2 linked regions of the Homo sapiens genome follow. The protein of the gene in region 1 interacts with the protein of each later gene in a pairwise test. Each region holds a gene or a part of one and is shown on either strand. Other genes may lie near its edges.

Evidence for each region.
Region 2: the proteins of XIRP1 (region 1) and EVL interact in a two-hybrid assay, tested with the Homo sapiens proteins (one study listed by BioGRID).

What each region holds. Positions count from the first base shown.
Region 1 is NC_000003.12:39,182,581-39,186,330, reverse strand, and holds the end of XIRP1 (xin actin-binding repeat-containing protein 1), read left to right. Parts: coding exon 1-2,417; 3' UTR 2,418-3,116; downstream 3,117-3,750. UniProt on the Homo sapiens protein: Protects actin filaments from depolymerization. Required for correct cardiac intercalated disk ultrastructure via maintenance of cell-cell adhesion stability, and as a result maintains cardiac organ morphology, conductance and heart beat rhythm.
Region 2 is NC_000014.9:100,127,694-100,131,502, forward strand, and holds part of EVL (ena/VASP-like protein), read left to right. Parts: intron 1-825; coding exon 826-1,055; intron 1,056-1,869; coding exon 1,870-1,991; intron 1,992-2,638; exon of another isoform or gene 2,639-2,767; intron 2,768-2,943; exon of another isoform or gene 2,944-3,809. UniProt on the Homo sapiens protein: Ena/VASP proteins are actin-associated proteins involved in a range of processes dependent on cytoskeleton remodeling and cell polarity such as axon guidance and lamellipodial and filopodial dynamics in migrating cells.

The sequences.
Region 1 (3,750 bases):
CCACGACTACCCCTCCGGGGCCTGGGGCCCCAGACCTCCTGGCCGCCATGCAGAGTCTGCGGATGGCAACAGCTGAAGCCCAGAGCCTGCACCAGCAAGTTCTGAACAAGCACAAGCAGGGCCCCACCCCAACAGCCACTTCCAACCCCATCCAGGACGGTCTTCGGAAAGCTGGGGCTACCCAAAGCAACATAAGGCCTGGGGGTGGAAGTGATCCCCGGATCCCAGCAGCCCCCAGAAAGGTCAGTAGGGAAGAGCAAGCACTACCCAGAGGGCTGCCTGGGGGGTGGGTGACAATTCAGGATGGCATCTACACCGCTCATCCCGTGAGGACCTTTGACCCACCTGGGGGTGTCCAGCTTTCTCAGAGGGAACCCCAGTCAAGGCACAGGGAGACTGCCCTCTCAGTCCAGGCTCCCCGCCCACTCCAGGGAGGCCCAGGTCAGAGTACTGGGCCAGGGCGGGAGGAGCCTGGGGGCTGCACACAGATGGCCTGGGGGCCACCAGGGAAGGCGATGGCAGAAGTCTGCCCAGGGGGCCTCCAAGCTGCAGAGACCACCCTGAAGACTGCCCCTCTAGGCCGCCACATTCTGGCCTCTGGGCCCCAAGCTGCAGGTGCCAGCCCGCACCCCCATAATGCCTTTGTTCCTCCTCCTCCTACTCTCCCAGCTGCTGTGACAGGACCTGACTTTCCAGCTGGAGCCCACCGTGCTGAGGACTCCATCCAGCAAGCCTCTGAGCCCCTGAAGGACCCCCTTCTTCACTCCCACAGCAGCCCTGCTGGCCAGAGAACCCCTGGAGGGTCACAGACAAAGACCCCAAAACTGGACCCCACCATGCCCCCAAAGAAGAAGCCGCAGCTGCCCCCTAAACCTGCACACCTAACCCAGAGCCACCCTCCTCAGAGGCTGCCCAAGCCCTTGCCTCTATCTCCCAGCTTTTCCTCGGAGGTGGGGCAAAGAGAACACCAACGAGGTGAGAGAGATACAGCCATCCCTCAGCCAGCCAAGGTTCCCACTACTGTAGACCAGGGCCACATACCTCTGGCCAGATGTCCCAGTGGACATAGCCAGCCCAGCTTACAACATGGCCTCAGCACCACGGCCCCCAGGCCCACCAAGAATCAGGCTACAGGCAGCAATGCCCAGAGCTCTGAGCCCCCCAAGCTCAATGCCCTCAACCATGATCCCACCTCACCACAGTGGGGCCCCGGCCCCTCAGGAGAGCAGCCCATGGAAGGTTCCCACCAAGGGGCCCCTGAGAGCCCTGACAGTCTGCAAAGAAACCAGAAAGAGCTCCAGGGCCTCCTGAACCAGGTGCAAGCCCTGGAGAAGGAGGCCGCAAGCAGTGTGGACGTGCAGGCCCTGCGGAGGCTCTTTGAGGCCGTGCCCCAGCTGGGAGGGGCTGCTCCTCAGGCTCCTGCTGCCCACCAAAAGCCCGAGGCCTCAGTGGAGCAGGCCTTTGGGGAGCTGACACGGGTCAGCACGGAAGTTGCTCAACTGAAGGAACAGACCTTGGCAAGGCTGCTGGACATTGAAGAGGCTGTGCACAAGGCACTCAGCTCCATGTCTAGCCTCCAGCCTGAGGCCAGTGCCAGAGGCCATTTCCAGGGACCTCCAAAAGACCACAGTGCCCACAAGATCAGTGTCACAGTCAGCAGTAGCGCCAGGCCCAGTGGCTCAGGCCAGGAGGTCGGAGGTCAAACTGCAGTCAAGAACCAAGCCAAGGTTGAATGCCACACTGAGGCCCAGAGTCAAGTCAAGATCAGAAATCACACAGAGGCCAGAGGTCACACAGCCTCAACTGCCCCTTCCACCAGGAGGCAGGAGACATCAAGAGAGTATTTGTGCCCTCCTCGGGTTTTACCTTCCAGCCGAGATTCTCCCTCCTCCCCAACATTTATCTCCATCCAGTCGGCCACAAGGAAGCCTCTAGAGACTCCCAGCTTTAAGGGCAACCCTGATGTCTCAGTGAAAAGCACACAACTGGCTCAGGACATAGGCCAGGCCCTGCTCCACCAGAAAGGTGTCCAAGACAAAACTGGGAAGAAGGACATCACCCAGTGCTCTGTGCAACCTGAACCTGCCCCTCCCTCAGCCAGTCCCCTGCCCAGAGGGTGGCAAAAGAGTGTTCTGGAGCTACAGACGGGGCCAGGGAGCTCACAACACTATGGAGCCATGAGAACCGTGACTGAACAGTATGAGGAGGTGGACCAGTTTGGGAACACAGTCCTCATGTCTTCCACCACAGTCACCGAGCAGGCAGAGCCACCCAGGAACCCAGGCTCCCACCTCGGGCTCCACGCCTCCCCCTTGCTGAGGCAGTTCCTGCACAGCCCAGCTGGGTTCAGCAGTGACCTGACAGAAGCTGAGACGGTGCAGGTGTCCTGCAGCTACTCCCAGCCAGCTGCCCAGTGAGGCCCACCGCCTCCCACCACACCTGCCACCTGTTCCTGGCCTCCACTGCCCCAGGACTGAAGTGGGTACCTGCCTCCTGTACACTGGAGCAAGGACCAAGAGGAAATGGCATCTTCAGAGGATTACTGTGGGCCATTTCCCTTTCGCAGTTCTTTCAATAGGCCCAGTTCTTCCAAATGGAAAAAGAAAGGTCTGGAAGAGGCCCACAGAGTTGCACAGGCGTGGGGGTAGGATGGGGGCTCCCAGCTGCTTGTGGAGGATGTAATATATACAGACACACACATGTTTTTCACACAGGCCTGGCCCACGCATCGACATGTGTGAATTTGCACACCACTGCCTGAATTGGAGCCCCCCAGAGTGTCCCTCTACCCAGAGTTTTTATTTCTTTAATTAGTCTGAGTGTTCCCAGCCATCTGCTCCTTAATCCCTGGAGAGGAACAGAGCCAACTGGACACAGCGTTGGTCTCTGTTTGGAATCACTGTGAGGTCTCCAGAAGGACCTGGCCGCCAGCCCCTTCATCACCATCTCCATCATTCAGCTGGTCATCTGGTGGCCCAAAGGTCACCCAAAGAGTCAGCAATCAGCATGTCCCTAGAAGCCAAATGCACTGCCTTTCTCTGTCCCCATGACTGTCCCCCACTCTGCACCCCAAATGGGAAGCATACGGTCTGAATAAATCCAAGTTTTATTCTCTACTCTGTGCATGTCTGACTGTGTGTACATCTGTTCCAGTATGTGTTCCTACTGCAGGGGGAGAAAACAGCCACAACCTCCAGGTGCCTCGTCTTCCTAGCAACAGCAGTGTGGGAAGGCTCTAAAAGCCACCCCTTCTCCACCATCTTGGCTGGCAACCAGAAATGCCCTGCCCACACTTCTATTCTCCTTGCCCCTATCCCCATCACACACACACACACACACACACACACACACACACACACACACACAGTGCTGCCCTCTCTATCTCGACCTCGCCTCCTGGATGTTCTTGAATACCATCCTGGAGGGGTTCTTAGAATCCTGCCCCAGAGCTGGAGAGCAGCCCAGTCAGGACTGGGAAGCAGGAGGAACTCACGCCAGGAGAATTCCTGTGCCCAAGATGGCTGGATCACTTCTGCCTGTTCAGCCCAGGTGTTGTGTGCCAAGCAGTGGTTCCTGAGAAATGAAGTGCTCAGATCCTGGCCTGGAAAGTCAGGTTGTTTTGGTGAAGGGCCCTTTTCATGCTGTCTTTCAAAAATCACTAAGCATCTTCTGTATTCCAGGCCTGTTCTAGGCAGTGGGGACACAGAGGTGAGGTCCAATGGGGTCCCGCTTTCAGGGAACTTTTTAGAA
Region 2 (3,809 bases), on another chromosome or scaffold:
TCGTGTCCCAGCTCCACAGTCACTTCCGTGAGGACGTCATGGAGGACGTCCGTCTTCCATGAACTTCTGGCCAGGCTGGAGCCCCTCTTTGTATGCCAACATGGCGCCGTGTGCCTGCCCTTGGTAACACTTGTCAGCTTGCCACAGTCCTCCATCTGCGTTTACCTCTGCGATTCGTTGACTGTTCCTCATAGGCTGTGAGCACCCTGAGCAGAGAGCTTGTGGCTGGTTTTCCTCAGCACCATACCCAGCACCTAGCACAGTGCCTGGCACAAAACAGGCTTAGGCAGCACTGGCGGAAGGGGCTGGATGGATGATGCTGGAGCCCAGCACTCGGCATTGCGCCCTGACCCATGCCCCCAGTCGGCCCTGGGACCCACAGGACCTGCCACGGCCCCCAACGACCCAAGTGTCAGTCACAGTTGGATCTTGGTGACCAACTTCTGCCTAGGGGGTGCTAGGTGCTTAGAAGGAGCAGAGAAGAGAAGAGGCACAGACTGTAACCAGACAGCTTCCTCTCCCCCTGGAAAAACATGATTGGAGCAAGAGGAAATTGCCTGGGCTCAAGGAATGTTAAGCAAATAGAGGACACCTGTGGGTCCAGCCAGGCCCCGGAGTACTGAGGACACCAGAATAGGGAATAATTGTGCCAGAGCCAAGTTCATCCCGCGGAGGCTTCCTGGATGAAGCAGGCCTGGAGCTGTTTCTCATCCCTTTGGGGAGCAGCCTGCCCCTGTCCTTCCTCCGGGGAACCTGAGCTGAGAGCAGCAGGCTTGGCCCCCAGCTGGGTGCTGGAGCTGGCTGAGCCTCACTGTTGTGTTTCAGGGCCCATCCTCCCACCAGGACATCCTTCATCTGCAGCCAGCGCCCCCGTCTCATGTAGTGGGCCTCCACCGCCCCCCCCACCCCCAGTCCCACCTCCACCCACTGGGGCTACCCCACCTCCCCCACCCCCACTGCCAGCCGGAGGAGCCCAGGGGTCCAGCCACGACGAGAGCTCCATGTCAGGACTGGCCGCTGCCATAGCTGGGGCCAAGCTGAGAAGAGTCCAACGGGTAAGAGCTCCTGTGTGCGGGGTGGGAATGGGACCGAGGGGACCCTTGTGCCATCTGCAGAGCGCTTGTGTTCCTTCCCGCATCTGCGAGACACAGCAAACTGCTTCCCTGCCCAAAGCTAGCTGGCCCTTGGCCACTTGTTCTCAAACGAGAAATCACATGGGACAGCACTTTGAAATTATGAAGTTAGCCTTTGAGCCTCACGTTGACCTTCACACGTGGGGCAAGAACTATGTCCCCCTTTAGAGATGAGGAAATTGAAGCACAAAGAGCACGAGTAATTTGCTCAAGTCACACCGTTTACAAATTGCAGATTTTGGACTCAAGCCTGGGTCTCCTGAATCTATGTCCATTGCCCTTTCCACTGTAGGAAGCTGTATGCTGGCAACTAGGTCCACCCGGCTGTTTCTTCCCTAACCCTTGCTCATATGTTCTAGAACTGTGCTTGTAAGAATAGCTCTAATACAGACCTTTGGCTTACATTGTGTTTCCTTCCCACAGGATAGTCTCTTCTCCCCTCCCTCCCTCCCTCCATGTGTCATGGCTGGTCTTGGCAAAGACACTAACCATGAGTCTGCAGGCCTGGGGAGTGTCTGCGACTTGTGTGACCTGGGCTGGTCCTTGTCCCTCTCTCGATTCTGGTTTTCTCCCCTGTGGGGTTGGAGAATAATGGACCAGATGGCCCCTGAGGCCCCTTGCAGTGCTGCTGCCATAGGATTCACACGCACACAGTCCCCTGCATCCCCTCACATCGTTGCTGCTCCTGTTCTGCCATCAGCAGCAGAATCTAAAACGCGGCCTCCTTTTTCCTCAGCCAGAAGACGCATCTGGAGGCTCCAGTCCCAGTGGGACCTCAAAGTCCGATGCCAACCGGGCAAGCAGCGGGGGTGGCGGAGGAGGCCTCATGGAGGAAATGAACAAACTGCTGGCCAAGAGGTGGGTCTCTACACCTCCCGAGACTTGGTGTGCCTAGCAGGAAGCTCCTGCCCCCGCCCCCAGCGCTGCACAGAGAATCCTCTCTTGACCCCAGAATCTTTGTTCCCTGGGTTTAGCCAAGCAGGGGAAACTGTTACTTAAGTTTTCCCTTCCCAAGGGGTTAGTCTGAAGCGCAAGCCCACAGGAGTCCTCTAAACTCCAGATCCTTCATTTTAGCTCAGCAAATATTTCCTGAAGCATCTACCATGTACCAGCCCTGTCCTGAGCAGAGATAAATGTGGAGACAATTTCAGAGATAAATGCGGGAAAAAGAACAGTCCTTGCTCTTAAGATCCTAACAGAAATAAGATGTGGCCGCAGTGGTCGAGTTTGCAGAGGACACTCTGGTGAATGTGTGGTGAAGGCACCCCATTCTCCAGGGTTCTTTATGGAGGACTCAGGAGAAGGAGTTATGAAGGGTAGGAGCCCAGAGGGCATTGCCCTGAGCGACGGAGAGAGAGTAGTTCCATCTACATCCCGGCCGGGCTCTTGGGCCTGAGACCTGGCCATGTGTGTCTGCTCGCTGCAGCGGGTGTGGCTGCAGCCTGCCATTGTGGCTCTCCGCTGTTCCCCAAATGAAACCCGAGCAGATGGGGAGATCGTCCAGGTCTTTCTCAAAAGGGATGCAAAGCTTGGATTTTATTTTTAAATATGACTTGGCATCAGGAATGTGCTCACCTTGGACTACCAATATCGTGGCTCACTTAGGCACCAGAGGGCACGGGAGTAGGCCTCACCTGCCAGAACAGAGGAAGCTGCAGCGGGGGCCCTGCTCCCTTGGTAACCCCACCTCCACCCCCTGCCACTTTGTCGCCTTCTCCTGGCCCTCCCAGCTGCCTTCCAATTGGCTGACCCAAGTGAGAACTCTGTGTGCCCAGGGTCTTCACACTGCAGTCCTAGTTCCTCTCATTACCTTCCCGTGGCTCCATGAGGATGATGCGAGATGACAGAGGCCCACAGCTGCAGGCAGCTGGTGTGGCGCTTCATGGCAGGGCCACAGCCTGGGTTTCCTGCCAAGGGGCTCTTTGCTTGCATCACAGATGGCAGGGAGGGGAGGCTCCCCGTGTGTCAGGGAGCAGCAAGGTGGATCCGCAGCACGGGCGTCTCCGGAGCCTCTACTGGGCCTGGGCGTTTGTACATCGCCAAGACAGGAGGCAGGCTTCTGAGCAGTTTCCTGTGAGAGTAAGTCCAGGTGTGTGGGGCTTACAGTGGCCACACAAAGGCGAATGGCTCCGTGGGTGAGAGAGCCGGGAGGGCTCGCAGAACGATGAGGACGTCCCGTGCTGTAAGAGGGACAGTGGGCAGAGTTAAGGTAAGGCTGGGAAGGCTGACGCCCCCTGTGCCTGGAGAGCTAGGTGTGGAGGAAATGGACCAAAAGTCAGGCTGGAAGAGGGAGCCTCCTGGTGCAGGGCATCGGGTTCCACCTCAGAGCACTCAGAGGCGAGGATGGGCCACAGAGAAATAGAAATAGTTTTGGAAAAGAAAATATGAATGCTTTCCCTAAGTCCTAGACCAAGCTGAGGGGAAGCACCTTTCTGTCTGAGAACAGGAAAAGGCCAGTATTGCCAGGAGCCAGTGAGATGCCAGATGCCGGTGGGAGAGTCAAGGCCCTCCCAAGAACAAACATGCTTTGCATAGCTCAGCAGGGATCAATCAGGTGCTCTCTGAAATCCACCTCAGTGATGGCTACTGGGTGGAGCCGACGATGAAAGTGCCCTTGCCAGGTTTCTTTTCATGTAGGTTGTCTCCCGCCTCTGAGGGCATGCAGTTGAGTCTCCC